Regions from separate parts of the Homo sapiens genome. Here region 1 is linked to region 2. The links come from fine-mapping of genetic effects on gene expression. A gene starts in region 2. The other region holds a variant in brackets. All regions are shown on one strand. Distances are from middle to middle.

Evidence for each region. PIP is the estimated chance that this variant, and not a neighbour inherited with it, causes the effect. A credible set is the group of variants that fine-mapping cannot tell apart.
Region 1: its variant is the best candidate, but not a certain one, in a credible set for the expression of KERA in gastroesophageal junction (GTEx, PIP 0.56).

Annotation. Positions count from the first base shown.
Region 1 is chr12:91,405,845-91,422,449 of GRCh38, forward strand. All of the region lies in intron 2 of LOC105369896 (a long non-coding RNA gene), which reads right to left. Among named protein-coding and RNA genes, the nearest start is that of LINC02823, 87 kb to the left of the region's middle. RefSeq lists enhancers at 373-1,572, 1,041-1,360. The variant C/T (reference allele first, on the strand shown) is at 8,475.
Region 2 is chr12:91,052,201-91,068,805 of GRCh38, forward strand. It overlaps KERA (keratocan), which reads right to left and starts at 5,824. Exons shown (of 3, transcript NM_007035.4): 1 at 5,544-5,824; 2 at 3,196-4,089. The coding sequence starts at 4,081.

The DNA of each region.
Region 1 (16,605 bases), 350 kb after region 2:
ATAAGGCCTCAGGTCTATGGCATGTAGATTTTGGTTTGACAAATGCATTATTTTGTATTCCCATTAGTAATAAATTTACAAACAGTTTGCATTCATGTGCAATAATGTTCATTTAGAGTTTTGCATCAGGCCTGTCGTAGTCCATTTGTGTTGCTGTGAAGGGATGCCTGAGGCTGAGTAATTTATTCTAAAAAATAGGCTTATTTGGCTCATGGCCCTGCAGGCTGTGCAAGAAGCATGGTGCCATCATTTGCTTCTGGTCAGGGCTTCAGGCTGCTTCAACTCATGGCAGAAGGTGAACAGGAAACTGCATGTGCAGAGATCACATGATGAGAAAGGAAGCAAAAGATAGGAGAGGGTAGTGCCAGGCTTTTTTTAACAACCAACTTTCACAGGAACTAATAGAGCAAGAACTCACTAATTACCATGAGAATGTCACTAAGACATTCATGAGGGATTTGCTCCTCTGTTATCCAGAAACTTCCCATTAAGGCCTCATTTCCAACATTGCAGATCAAATTTCAACACGAGGTTTGAAGGGGACAAATATTCAAACCATAGCAAGGGCTATATTAACTGCATTCGCCTCCCACAACATACTATAGTCATCTGAAGAACTCTAGACCACTGAGACATCCAAGGAACAACATATGGATCCATTATGTTGATAACATCACATGGATTGGACAGCAAGAACAAGAAGTGATTGTCATGCTAAAAATCTTGGTAAGACAATATATGCTTCAGAGAAAAGGAGTTAAACCCTATGAAGATTCTTGAACCTATCATTTCGATACAGTATTTAGGGGATTAGTGGTTGTGGCTGTGCTAGAATATTACCTTGAAAATAAACGGCAAATTGCTGTATCTTGAATTTCTTACAGCAAAAAAGATAGCATGGTGCCTGATAGGCCTCGTAGGGTATGGTGACCACACATTATACACCTGAAAATTCTGCTCTGGCCCATTTGCCTGAAGTCATTGAAGGTTGCCTGATTTGTGTAAAACCTAGAATAGGAAAGATCTTCATAGCATGTCCAGTCTGTGGTGCCAGCAGTGCTGCATGTCTTAACAGATCCTATGGCATTAGAGACACCTGTGGTAGGAGAAGATGCAGTGTGAAGTTCCTGACAAGCACCACTGGGAAAATCACAATACAGGTCTCTGAGAACCTGGACTAAGGCCATGCCATCCAAAGCAGAATGTGGCTGGAATTCCCCGAGGTAATCCCCAGTGAGTCATGTCTTTGTACAATCTTATGAATGTGGGTAGAACTTGGGATTTCCTTCTTAGCTAATAGACTCTGGTAAAATTACAGCATAATTATCCCTTTGTTAGGCTATGCTATACTGTGAAGGTGATGAGATAGTCACCCTCTTGATCATGTTACATTTTATTGACTCTGTCTCAGCCAACTGGAGTAAGCCCCTCCTGCTGGCTCTGAAGAAGTAAGCTGCCATGTTATGAGAGGGCCTTGTGGCCAGGAACTGGGGGTATAGCCTCTAGGAGCTGAGAGTAGTTCCTAGCTGACAGCCAGCAAGGGATCTCAGTGTTACAACTGCAATAAACTTAATTTCACCAACAACCTTGTGGAGTTGGAAGAGGATTCTGGACTCCAAACAGGCGCACAGCCTGGCTGACATGATCAAGGACCCAGCTAAGCTGTGTTCAAACTCCTGTCCCACAGAAACTGTGAGAAAATAAATGTGAATTCTTGTAAGCCACTGAATTTGTGCTAATTTGTTATGCTACAATAGGTAACTAATACACAAAGAAATATATGCCTATTCAGAAACAACTTCTGGCATGTTACTCTGCTCTCACACAGATAGAATGCTTGACCATTCTATCTGTGTCAAAACATCTAGAACTTTTCAATATCAGCTGGATTTTGCCAAACCCAACAGCTTATAAAGGTAGACTGGCCTCGCAATGCCCCACTGTCCCATGCAAGTGCTACAGCCAGGATCAAGCCCAAGTTGAACTGCAAAGCATGTATTACCTACATAAGCAGGTAGCCTAGAACCCTGTGTCACCTACTACACTTGTCCTCGTGTCCCTCTCCTAGCTCTGACCTATTTCCATTTGAAGACAGGGTGGAGGTATCCCACAAATCATCTGAAGGGTGAGGAAAAGCCCTGAGGTTGGTTTATAAATAGTTTGCCTTGGTATATGGGTATAAACCAAAAATAGATGGAATCTGCATTACAGCTACAATCAGGGATGCCTTAAAACAGAGTAGACAGAGAAAATCTTCCCAAGGGGCAAAACTGTGAGCACAGAATCTAGTCATTCACTTTTTTGATGAAGGATAAATGGCCCAAGGTAAGAATGAATAGAGATTTCTCTTTTCTTTTCTTTTCTCTTGCTTTTCTCTTGCTTTTCTGTTTTTTATTTTTTTACTCACTCTGTCACACAGGAGTCTGTCACACACTGTCACAGGAGTGCAGTGGCACGATCTCAGCTCACTGCAACCTCCACCTACCAGGTTCAAGCGATTCTCCTGCCTCAGCCTCCCAAGTAACTGGGACTACAGGCGCATGCCACCATGCCCGGCTAATTTTTTGCTATTTTTTTAGTAGAGACGGGTTTTCACTGTTTTAGCTAGGGTGGTCTCAATCTCCTGACCTTGTGATCTGCCCGCCTCAGCTTCCCAAAGGCTAAGCCATCACACCTGGCCATATATAGAGATTTCTGAGCAATGTTCAATGACCTGGCCATCTGATCAGGAGCTTATAAGAAAAAGGATTAAAAGATAGGTGCCTAGGAGATTTGAGGGAGACAGAAGTGGATAGACATACGGAGTGGAAATAAAATACAAAGAGTTTTGTACCATATGTTAATTCCTACTAGAAAACATCCAACCTAGAAATGGCACTGAACAACTAAGTTAACGAAGTGACTTATCCAGTTAATGTTCATTAGCCTTCATCACTGGCTTCCCTGAAGCTGGTATAGTCTCAAGTAAATGAACCAATCACCTGCAGATATTGGAGGGACAACTATATAAGTAAAGGACATAGATATATTTAAATGAAAAGACTAGGGAGTATTTTGCTTTGGAAAGTGATTTAGCCCAGTTGACACAAAATTATAAAATAGTAAATTTTTGTTGATTAGGGGAATAAACACAATCCTTTCAAACCATTTCCACCAGCACTCTGAGCTGGTGCTTCAGCTGGGTCTTTAGAAAGAAGTTCGAGCTCTCTGAGTCCAGTTACTTTTGGATTGTGTGGTATGTGATGTCGTTCATTGCAACACCTTCTTTGATGTGAAATCAGGACAATAGTTTGATATTTTATTTGGGATTCAGTGCCGGTGGATCAGGCTTGGCTCAGATGTCCCTTCAAGAAAGAATCTGCCACATGTGGAACAGTTAGCTCACCACTCTGGCTGCCCTGTTGGTAGGATTTGCTTCAGCTTCTAGTTGCTGGCTTGCTTTCTCTCTGCTCAATATAAAGTGCTGTGCATACACATAAAGTTGGAAAAATAGACAGGCTGATTTATTATTAACATATAACAATATAAAGTATTATATATATATTATACATATATGATTGGAAGTGGCTTGTCAGATGTCTCTGGCTACTGCTAGCATACAACATACAGCTTCCTTGTTAATATTTTTCCAAGAAAGTGCTACTCATTTGCATTTCAACTTGTTTCCTTTTGTAGACTTGGCAACTGAAAGGAAATGTGCATTTAATTGAAACTTTTCTCTTTAGAACATTGTTGATCAAGGAAGACAAAAATCAATAAAATAACTTCATTTGGGGGCAAGGAGTATATTATTTGCATTTTGCTTATAATCCCCATATGCCTGACATACCCTGCCTTCTTGCATAATGTTCTTTACTAGACTTCTAATCAATCTTGATTATCAATCATTTCCTAAGTTTTCTGTTTGTTTGTTTGTTTGTTTGTTTTTTGAGAAAGAGTCTCTGTCACCCAGGTGGGGTGCAATGGCATGATCTTGGCTCACTGCAAACTCCGTCTGCTGGGTTCAAGAAGCGATTCTCCTGCCTCAGCCTCCCAAGTAGCTGGGACTACAGGCAACTGCCACCATGCTAAATTTTGAAGTTTTAGTACAGACGGGATTTTGCCATGTTGGCCAGGCTGGTCTCAAAATGCTAATCTCAGATGATCTGCCTGCTTCAACCTCCAAAAGTGCTGGGATTACAGGCAAGAGCCACCACACTAGGCTCCATTTTCTATTTGTTTCTTATTTTTTCATTATTACAGCATTTTAGCAAACTTGATTTGGGATACATATTTTATGCATCTGGATAAATATGTTTAAGAGTTGTAATATTCACTTTCCACATGACTTCTTGCTTACATTAAAAAAAAAATTTTGTTAAACATATTTTAACACATCTGCTTAAAGAGTGAATTTTCTTTTTAAGTTATGTTTTTCTGTATTTTTATCAGTATAAGATTATTGTACACATTTTGGTGGTACATGTGATATTTTGATGCATGTAAACAATGTGTAATGATCAAATCAGGGTAATTGAAATATCCATTACCTCCATCTTTGTGTTGAGAACATGACAATTCTTCTATTTTAAAATATGAATAAATGATTATTAACTATAATTCACTTACTGTAGTATCGATTAAATTATTTTTAAAATTTTACTTGTCTTCTTCCCCTCTTCGTTCCTCACTTCCTTATGATATTTATTTAGCTGTTGCCTAAAATGCTTGCATTGTTATTTTTTCTTTCTTGCCATGTAACTCAGCGGAGTCTTATGGCTGTTAGTCTCAGGGCTTTGATTATCTGCTTGCTCAGGTAAAATTACATAATTCAATGTTTTTATTTTTTTTTCTTTAGTAACTATAAGTAAAACCCTAAGAAGTAGATCAGCTGCACCATGAAAAAATAGTCATCCCTCCTTACTTTTACTATGAAAAGATAGAAAAATTAAAATATATATATATATATATAGTCAGCCCTCTGTATTCATGAGTTCCACATCCACAGATTCAACAATTATGGATTTAAAATATTAAAAAAAATAACAATACAACAATGAAAATAACAAATATATAAAATACAGTATAACAACTATTATATAGCATTTACATTGTATTATAAGTAATCTAGAGATGATTTAAAGTATATGAGAGGAGGTGAGTAGGTTATATGCAAATAGAATGTCATTTAATGTAGGAGACTTGATCAACTGCAGAGTTTGGTATCTGTGGCAGTCCTTGAACCAATCACCTGCAGATATTGGAGGGACAACTATATAAGTAAAGGACATAGATATATTTAAATGAAAAGACTAGGGAGTATTTTGCTTTGGAAAGTGATTTAGCCCAGTTGACACAAAATTATAAAATAGTAAATTTTTGTTGATTAGGGGAATAAACACTTGCATTTTGTAAGGTAGAGGTGTTAACAAAGTTGTCATAAATTAACAATGTTGCGGATAAAGTTAAACAATAATAAGACAATTGTTGGCCTAAATAACATTGTTTAGCCTAATTATATTTTATGTTTTTTAGTATGCAGATAATTTGCCTGATTAGAGGACTGGTGTACCAAAAGGGCTTTTAAAAATAAATAACCTTGGGAATGAGAATCAGCACAACTATAATCCATCACTTTGTCTGCTTTGAGAACTGAAACCACCTACATCCATATATCTTAATTATTAGGACTCAGAACTAAGCTTCCTTGTGTCAGCATGACTTACATGTTTGGTCCAGGAGAATTCTCACCAAGGCAGATATGAATATGGCCAATGAATAATTTTACTATTAGTTTCATGAAATATGTCAAACCAATTTGGGCAAATAGTTTGCAAATTTAAACAAAAGATCTCCTATCAGGACAATAGATTGCTCACCTAGCAAATAGCTCACTTATCAAACATTTTACTTACCAGAACTACTTGAAGACCCTTGCCTCACTGTGTCTACCAACTGTATGCCACAAACCTTGTCCAATACCCATCAATTTTCTATCCTGAAAGACCTACCTTAAATCAATTATAACCAGATCTCAAACCTGATAGATATTTGGATCTGACCTTCTCCTTCAAAGACAGAACTAACCATACAGGTAATGTTGTCCTGTACTGTACTGCAGTAGGTCTGATAAACGAAACTTTGCCTGGTTGATATATTTTTTGTGTGTTTTTTTGGAAGGGGGAGGATGGTGGTAGAGTTGATGAGATAGCCACAGCACTCGTCCATCACTCTTTCACTGCTACCCATACCATTCCTATGCCACTTCAGTTCCATCATACCTAACTGCTTCCAAGAGAAAAGACACATTATAGTTAACAAGAGTACATTTCTCCTGTATGCAGTTTTTCTCATTTTTCTGAATAAGATTCATTTGAGCAAGTAGATGCTTATAGTACAGACTTTGTTAATTCCACACTAACATGAAGGTTCTGAGATATGAACAAGATGCTAGCAGTTACAGTATCTAAACTATATGACCTTGGGCATGTTTCCCAATCGTTCAAGGTCTCAGCTACCTCATCTGTAAAAAAATGATGATAAAAATGACAATGATAATTGCTAATACATATTTGAACTTAGTACATCTGACGTGAGAACTGAAACCAACATACTTTTCTGTTTTTGTGTTAAAAGATTCTGGGGACCTGGTAAGAAATACATAAACATGGGGCAGAAAATAATTGTCCCTGGAAGATAAATGAACTAAAATAACTTGTTTTATAAGACCAACTACTTACTTATTCATTAATACTTGTACCAATGTCCTTGCCTTACTGTGTCTACCAATCCATAACTCTCAAGTCATCAGCTGCCCAATCCTAATTAGTCTCCTGCTTTTTAAGATTCCTAATAGAACCATCAGCCAAAACTATATATATGTGTGTGCATATTATATATTTTTTTCTGAGATTTCCCATTTTTTTCCTGACATATTTTTTTCTGACATTTTCTATATATTTTCTATATAGAAAATTTTCTATATATTTTCTATATAGAAAATTTTCTATATATTTTTCTGTCATTTTCTATATATTTTTTTTTCTGACATTTCCCATTCTGAGATTCTCCTATCCTACTAGAATGGTATTGACCTTGACCACAGTATGTTTAATAAGTTAGGTTCTGCTAGCTCAGCTGGTTTCTAGCGGTTCCATTTGGGGTTTGGCAGATGGCACAGGCCTTATCCTTAGTACCTTATATGCATTAATTTCTTTAATTCTTAAAATAGCCCTATGAGGCAAGTAATATTATTATCCCCATTTTACAAAAGAGGAAGCTAAGATCCCTGGAGCTTAAAAAGCATATTAGTGCTTTTGTCAAAATTAAATATAAGAAGACATACACATACAAAAAGCCCAGCAAAGGTATCTAGCACAAAGTAAGGTTTATGAAATCTGATTACTATTTTTCTGTTATATTGATAATAGAGGAAAACAATAATTACCTTGCCAAAGAGATCTCCACCGTGAATACTTCAGTGCTATGAGAATTGTATGTATTTTTAAAATCCTCAAAATGTTTGATCATAGAGATCTTAGAAGTTGGGAAATTTTCAGCAAATGTTTGTTTCTCACTTGTGCACAAAATAGCATATATTTATAATGGTCTATGTTTATTTTCTAATAAAGCGTTTTACAAAAATCACTAAGTGTATATATTATTTAAATTTTCTTTTAATCCTTGATCTAAAGTGAGACTATGACATTCAGAGAAGTTTTCTGTTATTTCCAGAGCTGCAAATCTAAGTTCTCAGCCACGTATCACCTCCGTCAGGAGTCAGCAATGGTTTTCTGTAAAGAGCCAGGTAGTAAATATTTTAGGCTTTACTCACCATGTGGTTTCTATTACAACTATTCCACTTTGCTACTGTAGCACAAGAGCAGCTGTGAGTGATATGTAGGGGTGTGGCTGTATTTCATAAAACTTTATTTCCAAACACAGTTGGCAGGCTGTTTCTAGTCTGTGAGCTGTAGTTTGCTGAGGGCTCTTCTAGATGTGACTTTGAGAGCTTCCATGGGGTCATGTGTTTTTTATCCTCTTTGATTTCCTGCTAAGGTCTGACAGCCCTGAGATGCTCATTCATAGATACAGCATTGCATCAACATTTAGATACGCTATCACTAACTTTTCTCGGTAGTCATGACATTTAATATTGTACTTGGGTGACTTCTGTGACAAAATAAAGATATTGTGAGTAAACTCTAGCTGGAAAACAACAACTACTTTACTGTGAGGATCTGAGAATCTAATAATACAATGCTGATGTCACCTGGGGCTCTTCTTCAGAGAAGGCAGTCACTCTACGAGCTTAGACAACAATTTCCCTGAGGATAAAAGAACTGTTTTGTCAAATTCAGCACCCAGTGTGGTTTCATTATTTTAGAATATAAAACTGTTTGGTGATTAACTTTGTTTACACTTGGCAAGTATTGCTTCCTTTTCTGAGGGGGCAAAAGACAAAAAAGCTCATAAAAATTTTAAAAAGCTTTTGA[C/T]TTCAAATAGTTCTTACAAAACTGCACTTGGATGAGTTAAGTGTGGAGGAATCAAAACCATATGGATTATACTTCTTTTAAAATAAACACTGATTTAAAAATTGAGGGAAAATTCTTAAACATAGACTTTCGTCTTCACAGACTCCAAACAGTCAAAAAGCAACTTTAAGAAATTTGATCAACCCAAAGCACAGCTGGGTTTACCCATTCTTAATTATAGTGTTTTCATTGTATATCATGTAAAAATAAACAGCCTCAGGAGTGGGCTACATTCAGCTATTTTAAAAGAGTGTGGGGGCTTTCATTTAGCTCTACTGCAACTTTTGTCCAAGCCCTGGATTTGAGGTAAATTACATATGGCATTTGAAATGCTAAAATGTTAAGCACTGTCACTCATCATATTTTATTTTTTAATTGTCCAGTCATTGACCCCAGAATTAACAAAATGTTGAGAATTGCCTATTTGAAATTATCCTAAGGTGACTTATCCTGACTAGATTTTCATCTAAATGCTTAGTCATCAAAAAATGTGAACCTGGTACCCTTATTTAGTGAAATAACATTTCTGCATGGGGTTAATGCTCATCACATGCAAACAAAATCAAGTTTTCTTAACCACAGTCTTACTTCAAATGAAATCAATTTAGCTATTTATTCATTCCCTACCAGGGTTCAGGAACTTTGCTAGGCACTGAAAGTTCAAAAACAAAAAGATATCTGGTCTCTTACAGGAACTCAAGAAACAAAAGGTGAAATGTAGTTAGGCAAACTATTGCAATACAATGCAGCATTTGCTATAACACATGTAAATCATGGAAGAGAAGACCTGTTTCCTGGAGGACAGGGTGAAGGCTTCTTAGACAAAGGGAAATTTGAATTGGGTCAGTAAGGGTTTCCCTAATGAAAAAGGTAAGCAAGGCATTCTGTGTAAAGAGAATTGGCAAGAATCTAGAGTGTCTTTGTGTGACATAGAGTATAAGGTGGAAGGAGGAATGGCCAGAGATGAATCTAGAAAGTCAGGCCACAGTCACATAGAGAAGGACTTTGTAGGTTACACTATGGAGTCTGGAGTTTATGGTCACTATCAGATACAGTGAGAAAGACAAATTTCATAGCTGTTTGGAGAATAAGTTTTAGGACTGTGTGTGTTTATGTGTGTGTGTGTGTGTAAGAATGGAGGAAGGGTGGAATGCAAAAATAAAATAGGGAATCTTGTTAATATTCTCCAAAAATGCATACTGCAAAATGTAACATAGTTACACAAAAATGTAAAATAAATGCACAAAAAGTCACAAGCCAGTTTTGGCAAGTGCAATTGCTATAGTGACTTGAGGATAGCCTCTACAAAGACAGGAACCAAGGCTGACTTACTGACTGCTTTGTCCAAGCCCTTAGCATAGCACATGGAACATAAGTTGGTAAGCAGCAAGAATTTGTCGAGTGAATGAAAGACAAGTGTGAAGGTCATATTGTATTGATATGAGCCAATGTAATAAGTCATTAATGAACCTCAGAAGATGGAAGATTCACAGGGGTGATACCTGGGAAAACATATCTGAAAGGCAGCTTCAGATTTTTCAATCCATTTACATCAATCTGGAGGGGAGGAGAAAGAGGTAGTCTGTCTCCTCAAGGCTGGATCAATAGCTGTTGGGGCAGCCTCTTAATCATGTTACCTCCTATGTGCTGCTCACTCAGTTTCTATTCGTTCCCCACTGGTGCTGTGTTCAGACTTCCAAAACTGCCCTCCTAGTTAAAGGGAGCAGCACTGACCTAGGAAAGAAGAGATATTCTGTCTTGTGAACCATTAGTCTCTTTCTTCCACCCCTTCCCTTAAGTGACACACTCACCCTTTACATTAAGGATCTAAAAGCAGCATAGGACAGAAGAGGGAACACAACCATTATTGACTTTGACCCATTTTAGTTATATGAGGTTAGCTGAGCCTCAGTTTTCTACTTAGTAAAATGGGCACAAAAATAATGACTAGTATGAAAAGATTTAATTCGATGAGATCACGATTCTGAGTAAGCACTCACTCTCTTAACGAGATCTCTCCTTTCCCATTCCATAGGCTGCCATGTGCCAGCTCTTGTCTTCCTTTCATAAGGGAAGGGATATATCTTCAGGTATAGGCAATTAAATGGAAACTCATGCTCAGCTTTTCACCATTAGAGAACTTTGTTTGTAATTGTGAAATCAATTTATTAGTTTTTTTGTTGAAGAATAATTGCATGAAAAGTCACCTACCACTTCCAAAAGTGAATAACAATGTTCAAGAAGACTGCAATGTAAAGCTTTAATTAAGGCAGAAAGGTGCTTTAATTCTGCAAGGGCACAAGCCATGTGAAGTGTGTAAGTAAAGACTGTGTCTCACAGACCTTCAACAACATGTAGCACTATCGGCCAAGAGAACAGACACTGCTTTGCGATGCCTCCCACAAGCCAAGACCAGTTACTTACTGACCAGGCCAGGAAGGCAAAAGCAGGTCTTCCTGGAAGATTCAAAATTCTTCTGATGGTTAGCATTCACTCAAGGATTTCTGACGCCCTGGCTGAACATTCTGTAGATGATCTGGCAGTTTAGAACATGTCTTCTCAATTTCTCCTTTGCCAGGGATCAGACCTGCATTTTTTTTTTTTTTCAAATTTCCCAGCTCTGTCCCCATTTTCTCTTACAGTTGTGTTCTCTAATGCAATTTCTGCATATTTAATCCCATCTCAGTATCTGTTTCTTGGAGGACTGGAATAACATACTAAAAGATCCCCATGAGAGTTATCTTCTGCTCCAAATGGTTATTAATTTCTTCACCTTTGGCCGGGCGCGGTGGCTCACACCTGTAATCCCAGCACTTTGGGAGGCTGACGTGGGCAGATCACAAGGTCAGGAGATCCAGACCATCCTGGCTAACATGGTGAAACCGTGTCTCTACTAAAAATACAAAACATTAGCCTGGTGTGGTGGTGGGTGCCCGTAGTCCCAGCTACTCAGGAGGCTGAGGCAGGAGAATGGCATGAACCCGGGAGGCGGAGCTTGCAGTGAGCCGAGATCGCACCACTGCACTCCAGCCTGGGCCACAGAGCAAGACTCTGTCTCAAAAAAAAATTTCTTCACCTTCAAAGATCAACCTTGCTAATGATCTTTAAGTGACATTTTACATTTACAGTATGAAACAAACATGTTGTGTGGCCTGCCACAGCTACCACAACTATACATAGGATTACGTCGATTAAGTCTAGACTTTAAGTCCATTTCATAGCCAGTATAGATACCTATCTATCCTCTCCCACTCACATATCTCACACTCTAAAATGATTCAATTTCACCATTCCTCAAACAGTCTTAACCCGCAAATGCTTATGTCTTTGCCAGTATTGTCTTGGGTCTAAACTGATTTTCACAATGTCAGCTCATGAACTCAAGGCCCACCTGAATGGCTTCCTTCTCCTGATACCTCCTTCCATGCTCCCAAGCAGGAGTAACTCCCATACAATTGCTTCTTCTACGGGCATGCCAGTGGCTGAGTAATAAAGCTATTTATAGGTATCTCTGATCACACTATGTATGATTCTTTTTGGTGTTTTGCATAGTGCTTGAGAGTCTGATACATTGTAGGATTTAAGTTCAATAAAAAGCCCAAATCAGCAATATAATATAAAGGAAACAGAATGAATTTGGGAATAGGACAATTTGGTTTAAAATTCCAGATCCCTCATTTATCGGCTGTGTGATTTGAGACAAATCATTTAATTTTCCTGAGGTATATAAAACGGGATAATAGGCCTCATATGACAGAGGCTTTATGAAGATTCAATGTAAGAAGCCTTCTATGTTGCACTCATTCAACAAACTGAGTGCCTACTATGATCCGTGCACTGTGTTACATCCTGAGGATATTTCAGTGAAGGAGAGAGGGTGCTTTATCTCAGAAAATTTTATTTCAGTTATGTAGAAAGACAGTAAGTAGTTAATTTTTTTTTAATTTGCAGATTATCATGACTTTTAGGAAGAAAATAAACAGGATGCTGTGCTAGATAATGATGAGAAGGAGAGGCTACAGACTTCAGGAAGAGCAGCAAAAGTGTCTTTGAAGAAGAGCTGGACAATGTATACCATATGTGCTCCCTATCGGTTAGGGTTCCACCAGAGAAACAGAAGCAGTGTGACACACACACACACACACACATACACACACACACACAAACAATTATATTGTACAATTATTTCTCACCAAAAAGAAAATAAATGTATTTCAATTTTAGACACAAAATCTAATTGCAAACACACATGTGCATATATAGTGTGTGTGAGTGAGTGTGTGTCTGTGTTTATTTCAAGTAATTGGCTTATCATGGTGGTTAGCTAGGCAAATCCTCAATAGGACAGGCTGGAAAATCTCAGGCAGGAGCTGAGGCTGTAGGACACACATTGAATTTCTTTTTTTTACAGGAAAACTTCAGTTCTTTTAAAACTTTTCAACTAATTGGATGTGGCCCATCCAAATTATCAAGATTAATCTCCTTTACTTACAGTCAAGGATTGTATATGTTAATCACATTTACAAAATACCTATACAGCAACACCAAGATTAGTGTTTAATTGAATAACTGAGTATGGTAGCCAATCCAAGTTGACTCATAAAATTGTTCATCACATGCTCTAAGATGTTAATCCCTTAACCATAAATTTCTTAAAGCATACTTTTGAGGATCTGGATGTATAATCAGCTTTTCCAATAGAAATCTCTCCCAACACTTTGGTAACATCTTTCATATCAAAATCACAGTGAATAAGGATTTTAAAATGAAAGACATTTTGTCTTCCTGAAATGTTGTAAGATTCCACACCATGGCAGCTGAGCAGGCTGACCTCTAGGCCATTTATTGTGGTTAAATAGGCAAAAAATAGTAGAAAAGATTTTATTGCTCTAAAACACCCAGCAGGCAGCACAACTATCAAATATCTTTACATACTTATAAGGAAAAACTATATTTCCTTCCGTGTTACCTCACATTTTTGATTCTAGATAAATGATTTAATATTCATTTTATATTAAATACCTAACTTTTCTATATTAAAACTAAATTGAAAACTTATTTTGCAAGTCAATAGTAAGCAAAATGTGAGTCAAAAAGCCCAAGTTAAAAACCACTGTATAAAGTTTGTTAAATACATGTTAAATGAACACAAAATATAAACTGTTATCCCTCTTCATTTATCAAGCATAAATGCTCTTGTGTTTTATTTTCATCACAGAAAAATATAATATTAAATTAATGGTGGCTTGTTTCCTCCCTCCCTCCTGCCTTGGTTCTTAAATGCCGAATAATAGTGTCTACTCTCTTGGTTTTTTAAATGTGGGCCTTGGTGTGTCTTGCCAACTTTTCCCTTGGGAGTTAGGGAGCATCACTTCTGCCAGCACTCCATAAAGATGTGAGAAACCATATTGATCAAGAAAGGCAGAATGGCCCATGGACTCATTGCAATTCATTATTGATTAGGCCACTCTGTCATGTTAACTGGAAACTAATGCTTTCACTTGAGTTTGAAGTCACCCTCCTTTCAGGTGGAGGGAGTTTGGTTTAACCCAACTGTTTTTCTAAGTGCATATCTAGCTCCAAGTCTAACCACAATGTTCTGCCTGTATCCTTAATGCAGAGTACTTCTAGTCATCTTGAACAGGCCAGCTGTAACCCATAATTGGTACTTTGAGGTCCAGTGTTTCCCTCTGACCACACAATGGAAGGTTGGAACAGTTTTGTAATTCAGAGTTATGCTTTCATCAAAGGTGATTTTGCTTTCTTAACACCATTTTCACCCCTGCTCTCTCTCCTAAAATTATTTTTAGTACACATCATAAACCAAAAGTAATCTCATTAGCTGCTCTGAGGAAAATATCTCTCATGTGAAGTAATATGATGCTGAAATTTCAGGATCATTGTAACTGTTACAAAGATGTGTAGTTCAGTAAAGATGATAAATTATGAATTAATATTACATTGAATAACAAAATGTAATCTAATTTTACAGAAAAAATTGGAAACATGGTAGGAGAATAAAATAGATGAGTAAACTGAGGAATGGGAAGATACCAGAATTACTCAGATTCCCCCTGCTAGGCATGGCAATTTTTAATGCCCCATTACTTGTTATTATATCACCAGGTTGGTGTTTTGAAAAGTATTTCTAAATGTTTCTGCAAAACTCCCCGTGGATAAGATTTTTAAGACAAGTATGTTTGATAAAACCATATATCATAACCCCTGCCAAATAATACATAATGCACATTAGTATATTAAAGACTTCACAACAAAGAATCTTGAGTTCATGTTGCCCAAACTTATTTGAATGTCTTTCTTATTATATTTTTATTATTGTTGTATGTATTTTTTAGGCAATTAATAACCTGAGGATGTAGTATTCTCTGGAACACATTTTAGGCAATATTATGCCAGCTTTTACAGCTGGTGTAAAGGAGTTGGGGGCAAAACCAGGAAAATATTGCCCATGGAATTAAATGGGGAAAAGAAGTTTCAAAGAAGGGATAGACAGTAGTGATTCACAGAAAGTAAAAAAGAGAAAGGGTGGCCAGGCGTGGTGGCTCACACTTGTAATCCCAGCACTTTGAGAGGCAGAGGCGGGTGGATCACATGAGGGCAGGAGTTCGTGACCAGCCTGGCCAACATGGCGAAACCCCGCCTCTACTAAAAATACAAAAATTAGCCAGGAGTGGTGGTGTGTGCTTGTAATCCCAGCTACTTGGTAGGCTGAGGCAGAAGAATTACTTGAACCCAGGAGGCGGATGTTACAATGAGCTGAGATCGAGCCACTACACTCCAACCTGGGCGACAGAGTGAGACTCCATCTCAAAAAAAAAAAAAAAAAAAAAAAAAAAAAAAAAATCCCAGAAGGCTTAAAAAAAAAAAAATTGAAAGGCTGATTTTAAAATTTATAGAAAATGCAAATGACCTAGATTTCCAAGACAATTTTGAAAAATAACAAAACTGAAGAAATAACACTACCTGACTTCTAGATTTTATAAAGGCATTGTAATAAAGGTAGTGCAGCATTGGTGCCATGATAGAAGACAAATAAATCAATAAGTCAATATTCCAGAGACAGAGGAAAACTTGAATCTTTATATTGAGAAACCTTCCTGAGTATTCAGCACAATATATACTTAAGTAAATTTACAATTTTGTTTTCTTTCTAATATCTGGATGTTGAACCTAATTATTAGGAATTAGGGTGGGGATGTCCTAAAATTTTGTAATTTTTGCATAAATATATATTGTGCTACAATAATTGTTGTATCCAGATATGACATCTGGGAGTTCTAAATTCCTAAATTTTTTCTATAAATCCTGTCAGAAAACAGGATTATTTAAAATCAGAAGAAAACAAAGTTTAAAAAACTTTTCTTTCAAGACTGCAAACCAAAATTATAAAATAATGTTTAGAGAAATGAAAATATGCTAAGCACCACCCCACCCCAAAAAGGGGAAGTTTGATAAACAATTTCATGCTGGAGGTTATCAATTTCAGTAAAAGAGTAAAAGCCACCCTAGCTGCAAAATGCTAAAATGGAAATTTAGAGAAAAGAGGTGGCCAGAAATGGTCATCATAGGGTGAGAGACAAGAAGCCAACTACCTTAAAATACAAACGTCTTGGACTAACCATAATGTGTTTCATCTGTGATACTTTGTTTTACTCAGCTGTTGCGTGACCAAAATTAGAATGAATATTGCTTCTTTCTCTGTGAGAAAATACAACCAAGTAGGTTGCCGCTTCCTGGTCTGGATTGGGGTAAGTGGTCCCTTCCTCTGGGTGCCTTGGGTCCTGCTTGTTCATGCTGTAAGACAGCAGAGAGAGTGGGCAGAATGGGATGGCAGCTCAGGGAGTCCTGCATCCTGCCTTTATGACAGTAGATAACAGCCAAGAGAAACACACCTTTGCTCCATGCACAGGCTTAATGTGCACCACAAGGATACTGGGCTTAGCTCTGCTTTGAAGTCAGGATCTAGCTGGTTTCTTTGTTGCTGTTTTTTAAGGCACCACATAGTTTATGAATTGTGTGCAATGTTCAAGGTAATCTATTTAGCACACGTGTTTGGTATTCTCATAATCCC
Region 2 (16,605 bases):
TGGTTAGGATGGGAGTAATTGTGCACCTGCCTTGGATCAAAGCCCTTGGCACCAATGACTATGCTGAGATTTAGGAACATACAGGAGAGAAGGCCAGTTAAACTAGCAAAATTCAGGGTACTCTGTAACAGCTGATTTCAACCATGAATCCATATATTACCTTTAAATTCCTTTTCAAAACCATTCCAAACAAGAGATCTTCCCTGATTAGACCCACTGAACTTGGGCAATGCCCCTCCTCTGTGGCCTATTGTTTTATATAGATTCATATTGTAGTGAATAATTTTATGTTTCCAGCAAGGTTGCTTTGCTTTGAATTTATGCCATTTTGTAAACTGAATTTAATAAAAATAATGACTCATTTGAATAGCAGTTTAGTTGTTATAAAATCAGGTTCTCTTTTTTTACATACATCCAAGTATCACCTGATCATCTCACAGGCTTTATCAGCCAATATTATTATTCTACATACCTGGGCATTTTGTGGGAATTCTGGTTCAGAGAAATAAGGAAATGCACACAACTTATTTCAGAAAGTAAGTGGCAGAGCTGAGACCTGGCCGATTCTTTCTAATTCTACAATGTGTCTCTTGCCCAAAAGAATATGTCCCTTTCGATGTGCAATCCCCTTATCCTCATCAAGCTCATGTCCCATAATCAATGTATGTCTGAATAAATGAATATAAAAAAGAAGTATTCTAAATTTAATTACATTTTCATAAATTACAGTGTTTCTCAGGGAACACCAGAAAGTAATGTAGTTGAGTAAATAACATTTTTACCTAATCTTAAATCCCTGAAAGTTTTCAGAAAAATAAATATTTCCATCATATTGCTTAAGACAAGTTCACTGTCTCATAAATTTTGATGTCTTTTCATAGAGGAGATATGTTTCTTAGAGACCACTTTGTTACAACTAGAGTAGATGATGTGGCTAGAAGAAGCAAGTACTTAAACAGTTTTGACACAGTGTGATATTATTATATCAATATTCTCTCCAGGGAAACTCTTATATTTATTTTCTTAAATATTGAAATGACAAAATTTGATATCTACATTAAAAAGTAAATAACTAGATTTCTCTTTGTTGCTTTTCTACTGATAGAATTTTTTAAAAATTTGTATTCATGACAATGAAGGAAAGTATTGTTATTATACTGTATGAGTGAAAAAAACACTTCAGACTCAGGTTCTGGCTATTGCATTTACCCTTTGTCCTTGGGCAAATATCCTCCCCTAGCTGATCTTCAGTTTCTCTCTTTCAGAAATTCCTAATAATATCACACAAGTTTCTCGCAAGGATTAAATAGTAGTTCTCAAATCGTGAGCCAGCAACATCAATACTATTAATACCTGGGGAGTAAACTGTGAGGCCCAACCTCTGACCCAGCAAGTCAGAAATTCTGGGGGTAGGAAACAGCAACCTGGGTTTATAAGATCTCCAGGTGATTCTGATGCACACTCAGATTTGAGAACGATAGAAAATTAGAAACCTATGAGAAAACACTTTGATAAAACTCTAAAATGTGGGTCTATACTACACACATAATACTCCATAAGCTAAAGTCTTATACTTCTCAACTGTGTTTTAAATACTGCTGCCTCACTCCTAAACACCCTAATTCACAAATGCTCAGGATGAAATGCATAATTTGTAAGCAAGGGCTCTATGTGGAGTCACTTGAAGTTTACTTCCCACATCAATTGTCCGTGGGGCTTTTAAGGAATGTACCTGTAATATACCTGTAGAAGCACAGAACACTCGTCAGGAAAAATTATGTATTTAGGTCAATATTGTTGTTGTTCTATTTGATTCAGCTAAACAGATTCATCTCTTAACATTTTTTTTCTGTTGCATCTTTTGTTTTTGACTACAGGATTAAACAATACATTTCATCACCATGGAAAAATAACCGCTATGATGGCAGGCTGCCATTTAATTCCTGGATTGTAGACTCAAGTACACTGTTATTTAACTCCCCCCACCAAAAAAACAAAAATTCTTAAATAACTGAGCAGTTCCCAGTGGAAAAATAGTCTGTTCCTATAAATGATATGTTTATGTGATTATTTGCTTAAAAAGCTTTAGTGAGTAATACCCAGGCAGCACAACCTTTTGACAAATTATCTTTGTTATTCTCTTACAAACTATCCTGACTGAATATTACTTTTGGAATGCATTTTCTTAGGTTGTCCTGGAGAAATCTCCCCAGAGTTATTTTTAAAGGGTCTACTCTGAGTTTGAAGATGCATAGATAAATGCCAGGCTAGGTATCGTACCCCTGTGGCTGGACCTATTTTTACACCAAGTCCAGCCTAGTCTCATGCATAATTGTGAAGAAGCCAAGTTTGTCTCTAATGTGTCCAACATCTGCTTTCTATAATCACTTCTTCTCTTGATGATGCCTCTGCCTCCAAAAACTTTGAATTCATCTCTCACTCCCTTATGAAAAGCTCTTTTCAGGAAAGGAGAGAGTATTCTACCTGACGATTGCCTGTAAGTCCCAAGGAGTTGCCAGCTACCAGGGAAATTTCTTTCCATTTTAATTAATAAAGCCTTAAACTATAGTAGTGGTTCTCAATGTGTAGTTCCCAGAACATCAACTGGACGGCTGTTAGAGATGAAAATTCTCAAGTCTCACTCCACATCTACTGAATCAGAAATTCTGGGGGTGGAGTCACCAGCCTTTACACACTTGTTTGAGACTCCCACTGTAATTAGCGGAGTTTAATTAGAGACTCCAATTAGGAGGGTTTCAGGCATCAGCTGTCATATAGTGTTTAGGACAAAGATGCCTTCCTAATGCCTCTTAAATCATATTTTCTTTATTACTAGTCATGAGGTTGTTTGTGCCTGGTATGGTTTCTTAAATAAGCCTACCCAATGGGGCAGAAATATTGGAATCTCCTGGAGTAAAAGAAGATAGAGGCATTCAGTTTCTCTAATGGATAATAGTCCTCTGTAGATGACTCAAGTCCACTTTTTAGTCTTCAGTTTGAAGATTTGGACTTCTTGGTTCATTAAGACTGTCTGCGTATAGACAAAATTTAATACTGAAAATTGAAAACACACTAAAAATCTAAAGGAACATTAGCGGGGGAGGGGGCAACACATTTGCTCTTCTTAATGAAAATAAAGATACATTTAATGACCATGAGCCCTTTAGTCAAAGACATACTCTGCAGGTTACTTACTTTTAATTTTGTTATGATCAAGGTGAAGGTGCTGCAGATGAGCACTGATTCGGGGAACCTTTGTGAGTTGATTGTGCGACAGTTGAAGATCTAGAATTGATGATACATCAAATCCTCTTGATGGGAGACCCTCATCTGACAGTTTGTTGTGATTTAGTCTCAAAAAGGCCACTTTAGGAATCACATTAAAATAATTTTCTGGTATTCCTTCAATGGAATTGTTGTCTAAAAACAACTGCATTGTATTGGCTGGTAATCTTGGAGGCATATTCCTCAGGGCATTCTTGGCCATGTTTAGCTGCATGAGATTCTTGAGTCCTTTAAAAGTGTCTCTTTGAAAGGCATTGTCCACTAATTTGTTGTTCTGTAGGTCAAGAAGGGTCAGGTTCTCCAGATTGCTAAAGGTCCCTTGAGGAATTCTGGACACCTTATTTCTAGCTAATTGTAATTGTTCTAAACTTCTTGGCAATGGAGAAGGTACCTCCTCTAGCTCATTATCTTCCAGAAATAAGAAGAGCAACTTCTTCAGCTGGCTTAGGGCTCCTTTTTCAATTCCGTAGTTGGTTATTTTGTTCTTGTTTAGATTTATCCATCTTAGCTGGGTGGCATTCTCAAATGGCTTTTCAGGAATGGTTTCTATCAGGTTGTTTTGAAGATAAAGATACCAAATTCTTGAAGGAATAGCAGGAATTTCTTTGAGACCTCTATTTTCACAATATAAAGCAGTAGGAAAACTGGGTGGGCAGAAACATTCCATGGGACACTCGAAGTCATGAATAGTCCAATCATCTGAATCATGTACTTCATAGACCTGCCTCACACTTCTAGACCACACAGTGTCTGTTATGAATAACACCCACATGATGAAACAGATTGTGCCTGCCATTATAGCACCTACAGAAAAAGGAACACAACTGTTAGATATTTGAAGATCTTGACCTTTAGATAATTTTATACATCAAAATGATCAGTAAACATTGCTTCTTCAGGGAAGAGGTGAAAATATGTCAACATTTCATACACAGATCTTAATTAATATACATTAGTTAGTAGGCACCATATGCAAAGCATTTTGCAAACATTGAGAATAATTCACCGACTTGTAGCTTTCTGGTTGTAACCCAAACACAATAAAAGCCGAGAAATGGAAAGAAAATTTTAGCAGCTCTAAGTGTTTTTCCATTTCAAGCTATTTAATTTAAAGAACTGAACTGAAACCAGTAGTTGAATATGAGAGTACAAAAAAGTGATCTTTTAAAAACTCAAACTGGGAATCTGTGTTGTTCCTGAGAGGAAAGCATATGCTTTTACTTTTACTCTTAAATGAGCAGAACATCTGGATGAGATTTCCTAGGCCTTTTGGCCCTTGAACCAAAGGAATGAAGGGATCAAAGAACATTTTAGCACTTTATGGTGAAGGAAGGTTCTAGGATCTGAATAAAAATGTAATTAATCTGTTATTCTCTAGCTCAACCTCTCAAGTAAGTTTTTTGAGGGTGGGGGAAGATGTCTATAATTTTAAGCACACAATTAAGTTGTTCAGCCAAGCTATTGAATTATCAATTCTCTCTCTCTCTCCCTTTCTCTCTCTCTCTCTCTCTCAGAGAATATGTATATTCTGTCTCTATATATGTATATATATGTATATATAGAGATAGAGTTTATTATATAGAGTTGAATACATTGTGATGTATAGCACAAGTACATGAGTATTGTATTCAACTATGCCATTATTATGGTTGATAAGAAACAAAAACAACCAAAAACATATTTAGGATACGGGTGGAGAATTTCTTTATATTCATATTATCAGTGTGGATAATGGAAAGTAGGTTAGCGTTTACTAATATTTGATACATTTAAAACACATAAACCCTCCCCACTGATCATCAAAGATTATTGGTACAAATAATTATTTTAACAGGAAATATACATATATATTTTAATAATTTATAGCATACATATGTTACATATATATTTATATATATATATATATATCAGTAACATTCTGACCAATGTACATTTATTGAACTGATTGATAATAGGATGAAATAAATTTTACTGATTCCTTAGGAAAAGATAAAGTCAACTTCATTTATGAAATGCTGATCATTCAATTTTGCCATTAAATTGCAGAAAACAAGTGCAGAACTGCTTCTGCAAGCTGTCAAATTTTCTAGGATTGCAGAACGCTGCTCTGGCCATGTTCCAACAAAGAAACATCATTTTTTTTTTTCTTTTTCAGAATAGGGTTTTGGTTTAGTTATTGAAGTTGTAACCCTGCGTCTGTTGAATAAGTACTTTGCATGCTTAACTTTAAGAGTTTTTAAAAGTGCAAAATAGTTTACCTTGCCTTCCAGGAATACACCGTTGAGTCCTGTGTCTCAGTCTGAGGTTTGCTAAAAATCAGTTAAGAGAAAAAAAAAAACTTTGACGAAAATAATTTGTTTTTACTTTAAGCTGTCAAGTCGTCTATGAGAAACAGTGAAACCTACTCGTCCCAGTCACCATGAACACCTTTGATCTATTGTTTCCACTTTGACAGGGCTTCAGAAGACTGCTTACCTCAGCCTTCTTGGATCTTCTTCTTCCTTTTCTATTGGTCACTGCTTGTACATGGTAATGGATTGACCCAGGCTCCACTGTCGTGTTTTTATGAATCCTCGGTAAAATATATGCACTAGTAGATCCAAATTTAACCCCTCCAACAACCACGGAATCTTAGTGCCTACACAGCCCAGCAAAGGAAATTCTTACTTTAATCCTAATAACTCATAAAAAAATTTCTAGGCAATTTTCATTCCTAATTCACAGTTCAATTCATTAGTATATGTTGTCATGTACTGATATCCAGACCTTATTTACCAATAGGCAGCTGAAGGCAGTTTTAAAGTATAACAAAAAGATATTTTAAAAGATTTTAAAACATTTTCCCTAGATGATCATTTCTTAAAAATTGAATACAAATAATTAAAAGCCAATGTCTTCTGTTTATATGGACATATTTTATCTGTTCCTGATATAAAATAGATGCTGTAATGTGTTTGACTAAGGGAAAAATAAATAAATATATGTATTTGAAAAAATGTAAATGTGATATCTGGAAAGCACTACCTGATTTTGGTGCTAATCTTGGTATTATGCTTTTTTTCAGAGAAATAATTTTTGTATCCCTATTTCCTATTATATTTCTTTTAACAATTTATTCCAAGTACCTGCTAAGGTGGGATAATTTTTTATTCATTATAATATAACACATGTTTTGCATATAGTCCCTTATGAGACATTCTGTTACACTGCTACTTTTTTCTTTAACACATATCTAAAGTAGTGTGTCCTCCACTTCTGATACTTGATGAAAAAAAATTATGCTTCTTGAGAAAAGATGCAAACAAAAAATATTTCATTTAGGTGTTATTATGTGGATTGATTGTTGTTTTGTTTTTCAAAATCTCTCTTATTCTAGCTTCAGTGAATGTTATATGACTCATTTAACAGCTCACATGAGTATTGTCAAAGAGCACCGTGAAGAGGATTAAGCATTGGATTCAGAGGACCTTTTGTGAACCACCTCTTTCCTCTCTCCTAACCATAGGAGGGTAAATTAAAGTTCAGTTTTGTCATCTACAAAATAGTAATGGATTGCTTCACAGAGTTAGGTCTAGTTTGTTATAAACAATTACAGAAATAATAGCCTTATTTGGAATTAGCCCTACACTCTCAACTGGAAAATGCATTTATATTAAAGGGTTTTTATAGATTGAGATCCTATTTTGACATGATTTTTTACTAGTCCTATAGGTATGTAGGTGTACTCACATCACATTTTAAGAAGACAACCAAGTGTTACTTGCTTTCTCACAACAATTGTCTCCTCTCTCTGTTGCATTTCTCCCTCTCCTTTTCCTAAACCCTCAGGATTTAAACAACAGATGATCTTCAAATCTGCATGGCCCTCTTCCAGCTATTGTCTTACTGTTGATTTTTTTAGCCAAACTGATTTTAGTCTTTTTATAATTTTCTTATACAAATGTTGCTACATGTTCATTGTAGGAAAATTAGAGTAGTATACTGGCTGCCTCCAATCTATTTCCTCTTCACCATTCCACTCATGATCTGCCAACCAAAATATGACTTCTAATTCTGCTTCCCTAAAATGGTTCTGACAGAAAATCAGCAATGATCCTCACATTTACTAATCTGTTGAAGTCTTTTAGTGTTAAGCATACTTGGCCTTTGACAATACTGACCCACCCCCTTTTATTAAATGTTCGTCTTAGTTGTTCTGACATTACTCTTTCCTAGTTTTTCCTCCCATTTTCTGGTGACTTCTCTCTGTCTATATCCCAAAGCTCTATTTCCTCTTTATAACATTATTTAAGAGCATTTCTAGCATTTGGAACCCTTTGAGATTCTGTCCTCTGCTTTGTGCTCTTCTTGCTCTATACACATTTCCTGCATGATTCTATGGTTCCAACCATCTCCTCCATCATGGTAACTCCTGAGTCTGTATCTGCAACCCAGCTTCTAGAAGACCTGCTTTCCAATGTGTGTGTATATCTGCTTTCTAGACATCTCCTGTTGCATGTCTCAAGGGCATATATGTAAAACGAAATTCTCTGTCTCCTTTTACTTCTAACTGCTCCTGTCATTTTATACTTTTGAGACTTTTGTCACATTCAGTCTCCCAAACCACAAATCTGGAAATCATTCTTAACTCTTCTCTCTCATTCTGTGCGCATATGATAATAATCACATTTTAAGGACTTTGGGAGACATGACACAAATAAAAATGATCATCTACAATGCTTGCCGAGTTTTAATATCATTGTTTCCAGACTAAAAACATAGAATTGTTTCCACTGTCAGGGTAATCACTATCTGTGTCTCGATTTTTCCTGTAACATTCTAATCTACTTTTCTTCGATTATTGATTCTTGAAGAGTGGGTACTTTAACTCTTCTCTGGAACTGTTTAAGTTGAATAAATTTCAGAAGTTAGTAAGAATGTCTGAGTCATATGAACTGATATAAAAATTAATAAAAGACTCTGACTAGTCCTATCTGATATTTCAAAAAGGTAGAAAGGAATCCTAAAGTTTAATAAGGTGGCTATGGCACAATCTATCTAGTGACAATTTGATATTTTAAATGTCTATGAGGCTTTGCACATAGCAAGTAGTCAACACATGTTTACTGAAGGAATAAATGAGCAAATAAACATATAAGGCACTTGTATCACTTTTATAGCCATGAGTTTTTGATCAGCATAATTGTGTAAGTAGGAACATAATGGAAAGCCTTAGATTTTGATATTTTAAAAATGTGAGTTTGAATTTTCCTTTGGCAACTTAGTAGTTGCTTGGCCTTGCATAGGCCATTTAACTATCATGAGCCTAAGTCTCCCGATAATGTATTTTCCCTGAGAAGTGCTCGAGGTCATCTTAAGATCAAATGAGATAATGAAGGTGAACATGTTGGATAAGTATAGACAATTTTCATAGTGAAAAATTCAAAGTTCAAGGGGATCTTACAAATCATTTCTGCAAACTTTGCTTTCACATATGAGGAAATGATGCCAGAAATTTATTTCAGAAGAGAATGTGATAGTCGATAATTTTGCCTTCCAGACATAAATCCTTTCAGAAATTTGATAGGAAATAAAGCTGTTGTTGTTGTATTTTTTGTAACTTCCCTCCTTTTTTTTTTTAGCATTTTTTGTTTTAAATTTACTTATATTGCTTCTACTTCTTCCTACTAAAAAGGAAGATACTTTGCTAAACTGTCTTTCACTAAGGAATTTAGCTTGTCACATTCTTGAAGACTATTGACATTTAGAAAAGAAGACAATGCATGAGTGGATAAAAGACATGAAATTTCAAATTTGCTGGCACTTGTATCTGACACATCTGTTTTCAGCGATGGTTGGATGGACTCCTTAGGTGCTCCTGGGAGCTTTGTTTATTTAGAATTGATTGAACTTTTGCTAAGAAAAAGAATTTTCTCTTAATAAATCAATTTCAGCTTTGTTTGACTAAACTTTGTTATATAATTTTTTAAATATAAAAGGAATCCACTAAAATATATATCTAACACACATATACACACACATATATATAAAATCTTAAAATGTCAAAGTAAGACATTTAAAATAGTGTAATGATAATTTAAAAAGTCAAGACTACCACAAAACTCATAATGAAGGTAATAATTACCAACCCCACCCATTTCAGTGTAAGCCCTGCTCCCAAGAGGCCATTATTTTTAACTTTATTCGAAAGCTTTTTTTTAGTATTTGCTTTAATATTCCAGCTTATGTTATTTTTTAATTTGTCAATTTAACCTTTTTAATTAAGTTAACATTTAACATGCTTGCTCAGTCCCATATATGCATATCACAAGCTTTTATTAAATGAATATTTAGTGCATACTTTTTTATACAATATAAACATTGTCTACTACTAAAACATTGCAAAAGTACTATAGATTCTTTATTGTAGCACATTTATTTGCTTTCTCTCTGTATATGTAACTGTACATAATACATTACATATACAAATATTTCATTCATATTTTCCAAAATCTCAAACAGAATTGTAAAATCATTTGAAAAAATTGTTTCCACTCAGTGAATAGAGGCAAATGGCATGGTGCTTAAAGCCACACCTGCTTGGGTTTGAATACATCTCTGCTATTTAGTGGCTGTGAGATCTTAGACAATTATATTTCTAGTTTTCTCTGCCTTAGTCTCCTCATCTTTAAATTAACAATAATAATAACAATGATACTAATATGTACCTCATAAAGTTGTGGTGAAGATTAAATGAGTCAATATTTTGAAACGACTTAGAACATTTTACAATTGTTGATTAAAAAAAACAGACATATTAGATTCATTTTTTTCTCCTGGGAGATAGTATTTCTCCTGAGATGTCATAACTTCCTACTTCAAGGCAATTTCCTTGCTGTTAGAAAGCAACCTAAGCTAATTTGGTAGATCACAGTTATTAGGTTCTTTATGTGACATTTCAGTTGCCTTATAGTTATCAAAGGCTATAAGAATCCTCTCTTACAACGTACGTGGAGGTGTTTTGATAAAAGTAAGTGCAACTCAATTGTATCTAATATAGTAGACATTTACTTGCAGCAGGCATTAAAAGAATTCATGTAGTAGGTCTTCATTATAAGTTTTCTTCCAATGTTAAGTAAGCTTCCCTAAGGTATAAATTAAAATTAACACAAAAATAAATCACACTGTTTCTCTTGAATTACTGCCTTTTAAAGTGAATGTATGGATATTATAAACCTCGCTTTCTGGGTCTGTCAGCGACGGTTATGGTCCTGGACTTCCCTTCACCCAGCTTCTCTGTCGGATTCCTTGTTGCTTCCACCATCTTGTGTTTTCTTGGTTAACACCACAATATTGGCAGAGTCTATCCTCTAATCGCTTCACTTCCTGTTACCTGGGATATGTTTTTGCCTTTTTTTTTTTTTTTTTTAAATTCACGTTTTAAAATGTGTTTATTCAGCCTACCCTCCTACCTGGTATTTTAACTAAATAGAATTTTAATTTAAAATAGTGTTCCTTCAAAAGTTTGACGATATTCGAAGAAGCAATTGTCTTGGAACTTTTCGAGTTGAGACTGAAAACGTTGATAAAATGATGGCCTGAGTCTTCAGAATGTGACCCCTTTCCCTCTCTGAAAACCCTTAGGATTTTTTTTTCAATCTTCACTTTCTGTAATTTTATAATAGTGTGTTTTGAAAGGGTGTATTTTACTCACTCATGGGGCATTCAAAAATTCTTCCAACCTGGAAGTTCATGTTCATATAGTCTATCAATTTTTTTATATTCTCTTTTTTTAAGGCTTAAAATAAATCTGATTAGATTGTCTAATTCTATCTAGTCTTTTCTAATTCCCTTCTCAAAATTGTTTATGATTTCTGACAGATTTCATCTTCTGGTTTTTAAAATTTTCTATATCGTATACATTTACTCTTAGTATACATCAACTTGTTCTCTGATCTTTTTTACTAAAGCATTCTTTTGTTTCATGTAATTACTATCTCTATTATCTCACTTAGGATTTTAACTAAAGAGTTTTGCTGGCAGTGCGAGGTTTTTGTCTTCTTGCAATAATTTTGTTTTCTTTGACTTTTTTCTTGGTTTTACTTAACCTCCAGAGATATTTTATATTAGAGTCTTTCCTCATATGTCTGTTAGTGCTTTGCTGAACATAGATTCATATTTAAAAAGAAAGTCCTTATTAAAATATCTGTGAGAATTGATAGCACCAATCAGCTTTACTCTAGAATGAGTAGGTATGGACTTTGCTATTTTATTGGGGCAAACCAATCCCCAACTCAATATCTATATGTCTTTTTCTTTGTGACTATTCAGTTTCTCCAGAAAAATGTTCTTCTCTCTCTCTACATGCATACACACACAGACACACACAAAATGTATATACATGCTTATTTACATACACACATATATTATGCAATTGTACACACATATATGCATGTGGGGGTCTGCATATACTGAATATAAGTTGACAAAGAAATGTCAATATTTTGCCTTTCACTGCACTTTGTATCACTATGATTTTTTATTAATACTGGTAATAAGAAATTTTTCTGTCATTATGAATAAATAGTAAATAACCTTCTGTTTACAGCTTACTCTTTGTGTCTAAACCATCCTGAGGCTATGCTGATTCCAAAACTAATATTAAACTAGTTATAAACTCTGCCACTTCTAAGCTAGTTATATTTTGATTCAACTGGCATATTTATAACTCTTTTGTGCCAGTTGCTCCAGGACTCCACAGGAAGGCTTTCACTAGCTAATTAAACAATAAAAATAAATACAGCCTTGTGATTTTGGGGAGAGCTCTGTTACCAGCTACCCAGATCACTCTTATCTAGAATCATTTTCTTCCTGCTTCTCAAATTCTCTCCATTTCTACCAAGTTAGCCTTAGAACCATTGGCCTTCAGGAGATATTACCACAGGAGGCTAGCAGCTTAGACGCCAATCAGTTTACAGCTCATCTCCAAAACACTTCAGATGAGCTCTCATACAAGACACAATGTCTTCAGAATGCTGAAAAAAAATACTGTTAGATTCATAATATCTCCAATAATGTTGAGATTTCACTGAATCCCAAATGTATTCTTGTATATCCTTATCCTTGTTATCCTTAACATCTTAACATCTTACAAAACTGCCCTTCCAGGCCATCCAAAATCAGAGCTATATTTTTGCAATCAGTTCCTGCGTATTATATCTTGTCAACTATCATCAGATGGTATTTATACTCTTTCAAGTTATAGAGAAAACCTCTATGAGGTCATAAGTGTGATTTACCAGAAAGGCAGCAGTGCCATAGGACTAGAATCCGTTTGGTCTCATTTCCATTTATATCATGTACTTGCTGAATCAGCACTGCTGGGCAATTCAGATTAGGCTAGATAGACCAGACAATACTGAGTTTATGGGCAGTTAACATCAAATTATTGTTCAGTCTCCCCTAAGGTCCGAAAAGGATAATAATTACTTACTAAAGATAGCATGCTTTTATTTTGGAAAGCTGGAGGTTGAATCCTCCTATTAAGGCTCACCACTGGCTGCATCTAGCTGCCATATATTCTTTGAATATCGTTTAATCAGATGAGTGATAACCAGTGAAATCACTGTGACCACATCTCTCTGGAGAACCACTTCTTGCCATGGGACAAACTGAAAGCTTATACTTTCTCAGTAGTGGATTCGCATGTGGTTGTATGTGGCCTCCACAATTCAAAGAGACTATGTTTCTAGTGGTAATGGATGTAGGGTTCAACAAAATGTCTCCACTGTGAAGGGATATCTCAACTTGTCCTAGACCCTAAACCTCTATAATAAATCAATGAGTTGGCCACTTACAGCCTTCTATTTTATTTATCTCCAACATTTCTGACATTCAAGTGAATGTCAGAAAGTATCTAGCTAATACAGTTTACCCTCTTGATTGTATCACACGATGTCCTGTAAGACAGTATTTCTGCAGACTAAAATATGGCACAAAGTCAAGGAATTAACACAATCCAGGAATAGTATAGCAAAATTGTATTGCTGTTCTTGTCTGGTAAAAGAAAGCATACTGCTTCTGGTCATTTTGTTTATTGGAATAGAAGGAACAGACATTCCTCAGATCATTTGCTTCATACAAGGCACTAAGAGCTGTAATGATTTAGACTACATATGGCACAGCAGTTGCAACAGGAGTTGCCATGTAATTAAACTTCGGAAAATTCATTTTTATCCTCTAAGACTATTTGTCCGCTGTACTGCCAGGCACTAGTTTAAATGGAAATCTGCTGGGAATCATTAATTCTGCACTTTTAAGTCTTTGAAGGTGGCACTGATATGTCTATTTTTTTACTGACATGACCTTGCTATTAATCCAATATTTTTATAGAAGTGAGGAGCTCTGAAATATTTGAGTTTTTTTTCAATCAGAATGGGTCCTTCATTTATGGCTTACAGAGACAGTATGAGAAATCTATCACTTTCAAAGCTCATTAATTTTAATTATACATACAATTACTTGGGAAATATAAATATGAAAAGGGTATAACCTAGAACAAGATAAATTATTCACTTGTCCCATCTTAACACCAAACAACCCTTATAAAGTGGCTGATGACCCCAGGAATTAGTTTTGCCTCAAAGCCATATTTTCCTCTTCAGGGACTAGGTTTAAAAATATATATAGTAGCAAACACTTGTGATATCATTACAAAATACATATTTAAGAAAAAATGCTCTATCCTTAATTCTGGCATTTCTAGGTCCATGATTTGACTGAGGTTTAAAAATTCAATGAAGGGCAGAAAGTCTGCCTCATATATTGTAATGACTCAATTCAGGGCTCTGATGAGTGGTTCTGGAGTTTTACAAATCAAATAACAAGATGGCGAATTTCACTTCTTCATTGCTAGAAATCTAATTTGCAATTGGCCATTATTAAGTTCTCTTTGTGACGGGTGATTCTGATTTCATGCTGATCCTAATACCTATAAATAAAAAATATAGTTACTTTGCTCATTGGCAGTCAAGTGACACTACTTGATCTCTTCCACTCCAGCTTTGCTCTTCTTCACTAAAGGGGATCAATTTTCATGACTCTGCCTTCTACCTACACTATGGTCTGAATTTTTGTGTCCCTTGGAAATTCATATGTTGAAATGTTAACCCCCAAACTGATGTTACTATGAGGTGGGGCCTTTGGGAGGTACTTAGGGCCTGACAACAGATAAATTGGATTAGACCCTCATAAAAGAGGCCTGAGAGATCCCCCATCTCTTCCGCCATGTGAGGACATGGCAAGAAACCACCGACTATAAATAACAAAGAAGCTCCTGTCTGACACTAAATCTGTCAGCACCTTTACTTTGGACTTTTCAGCCTCCAGAGCTACAAAGAAAATACATTTAAATGGTTTATAAGTCACCCTGTGTATAGTACTTTGTCATAGCATCTCAAATGAACTAAGACAACCAGCAACCCATGGACATCACTAAAATCTTTTAAAAGATGCTGGTACTCCCATCCCTAATATCGGTCTCAATGCTTGGTGAAAGTATAATAAATCCACTACAAAATTTCATTTTGAGAAAGTTCTGATTTTGTGCCTTTATAATCTACCAAAGGATCAACTTCATTTAATGTAAGATTCCATTGAGTTCCATTTTGTGATAAGTGGTCCACGAAACTATCAGACTCCCACCTACTTAAACTAGTATAATAAATCCAGAACCTCTAATATAATAAATCCGGAACCAGAACCTATAAGTATGCTCTTATAACTAAAGCTAGTCTGCTCTATTTTTATTGCTCTCCCTCCTTTGTTGAGTATCCTAAAGATCTGTCTTTCCTAATGTGTAGCTAGTATAGATTAGAAAATTCTTATAGTTCATTTAGAATAATGTTTTCATCCCTAGATTTTACTTTTTAATTGATACCCTGTTACTACCTCTCATATTGAAGATTAAGGGGATGGGGCATGACAAGAATTATGTTTCCCCTAAAGCGAATGAATGCCTGAGTTGAGGAAACAGTCTCTGAACAAGTAGAAATTGCTTTACAACTCAAGAAGAGTGGGGCTTTTCAGCAAGCAAAGGAGCTTCAGTGAGGATTGGGGAATCCTTGGCACACCAGTGCATCTGAATCTTGTTGTATAATCCCTATTCCATTTCTTGGGAGGGAGGTTCTGTTTCCAGATCAATGCTCTAACTTTTTATAAAGAGACAAGTTGAATAGTGCATTCATTACAATTCAGAATAGGCTTTTTGATTTGAGCTCTCTTCCTGCAATGGGTAAAAATAAAGCCTTTACAGTGTTAAAATAATTTTATAACCCCCTAGATTTATAAAACCCTTAGATAAAGCTCTTCCAGAACTTCCTATCTATCCTTATTTACAAATTCACTGCTACAACCTTATAAAACACTTTGCAATTTTCTGAACTTGAGCTGAGAACACAGGTATCTGAGTTTCCCATTCTCTTTTTTCCAGCTGTTCCATGGGCCTTTAAGCAGCTACTCTACCTATTAATTATTTCATGCCCTTCACCTTTTTCTGTGACCATAGATACATTGTTCCTCAAAGCCTTACCTTTAGGAGTTGTGTCTTTCAGGTAACTATATGTTTCAATTTTATGAATCACTGTCTTCCAGACTTTCACTCCCAAATAATTTCAGGGTTTTAACCATCTTTTACCTAAGCTATGCAGATAGCCAATGTTGAAGTCCCTACATTGGCCAACAATCTGATGTATTAGGCTATTCTTGTATTGCTATAAAGAAATACCTGGAAAACGGTAATTTATAAGAGGTTTAATTGGCTGATGGTTCTGAAGGTTGAAGGTGAATCAGAATCTTGCACATCACATGGCAAAAGAAGGAACAAGAGAGAGAGGTGGTGGGAAGAGGTGCCACACACTTAAAACAACCAGATCTCACAAGAAATCACTATCATAAACACAGCACTAAGTCATGAGGGATCCTCCCCCATGATCTAATCACCTCCCACCAGACCCCACCTTCAACATAGGAGATTACAGTTTAAACTGAGGTTTCCTGGGGACACAGATTCAAATCATATCAGATGTCAATAACCAATTTCTGTTAATGATATCCTTGTTAAACAGGCTTCTAGAATATAAACACCAGAGGGTAACTCAATGTTTTCAGCAAAAAATGAATTTCTTTGAAGGAGATACGTGGAATTGAATAAGTGAAAGTCTTTCCAAATACAGTCTTTCCAGATACAGTCTTTCTTTCCAAATGAAAGTCTTTCCAACTACAGTCTTCTGGCTGGAAGACTGTAGTTGGAAAGCAGGCAGATGACAAAGAGGCTCTTGACAA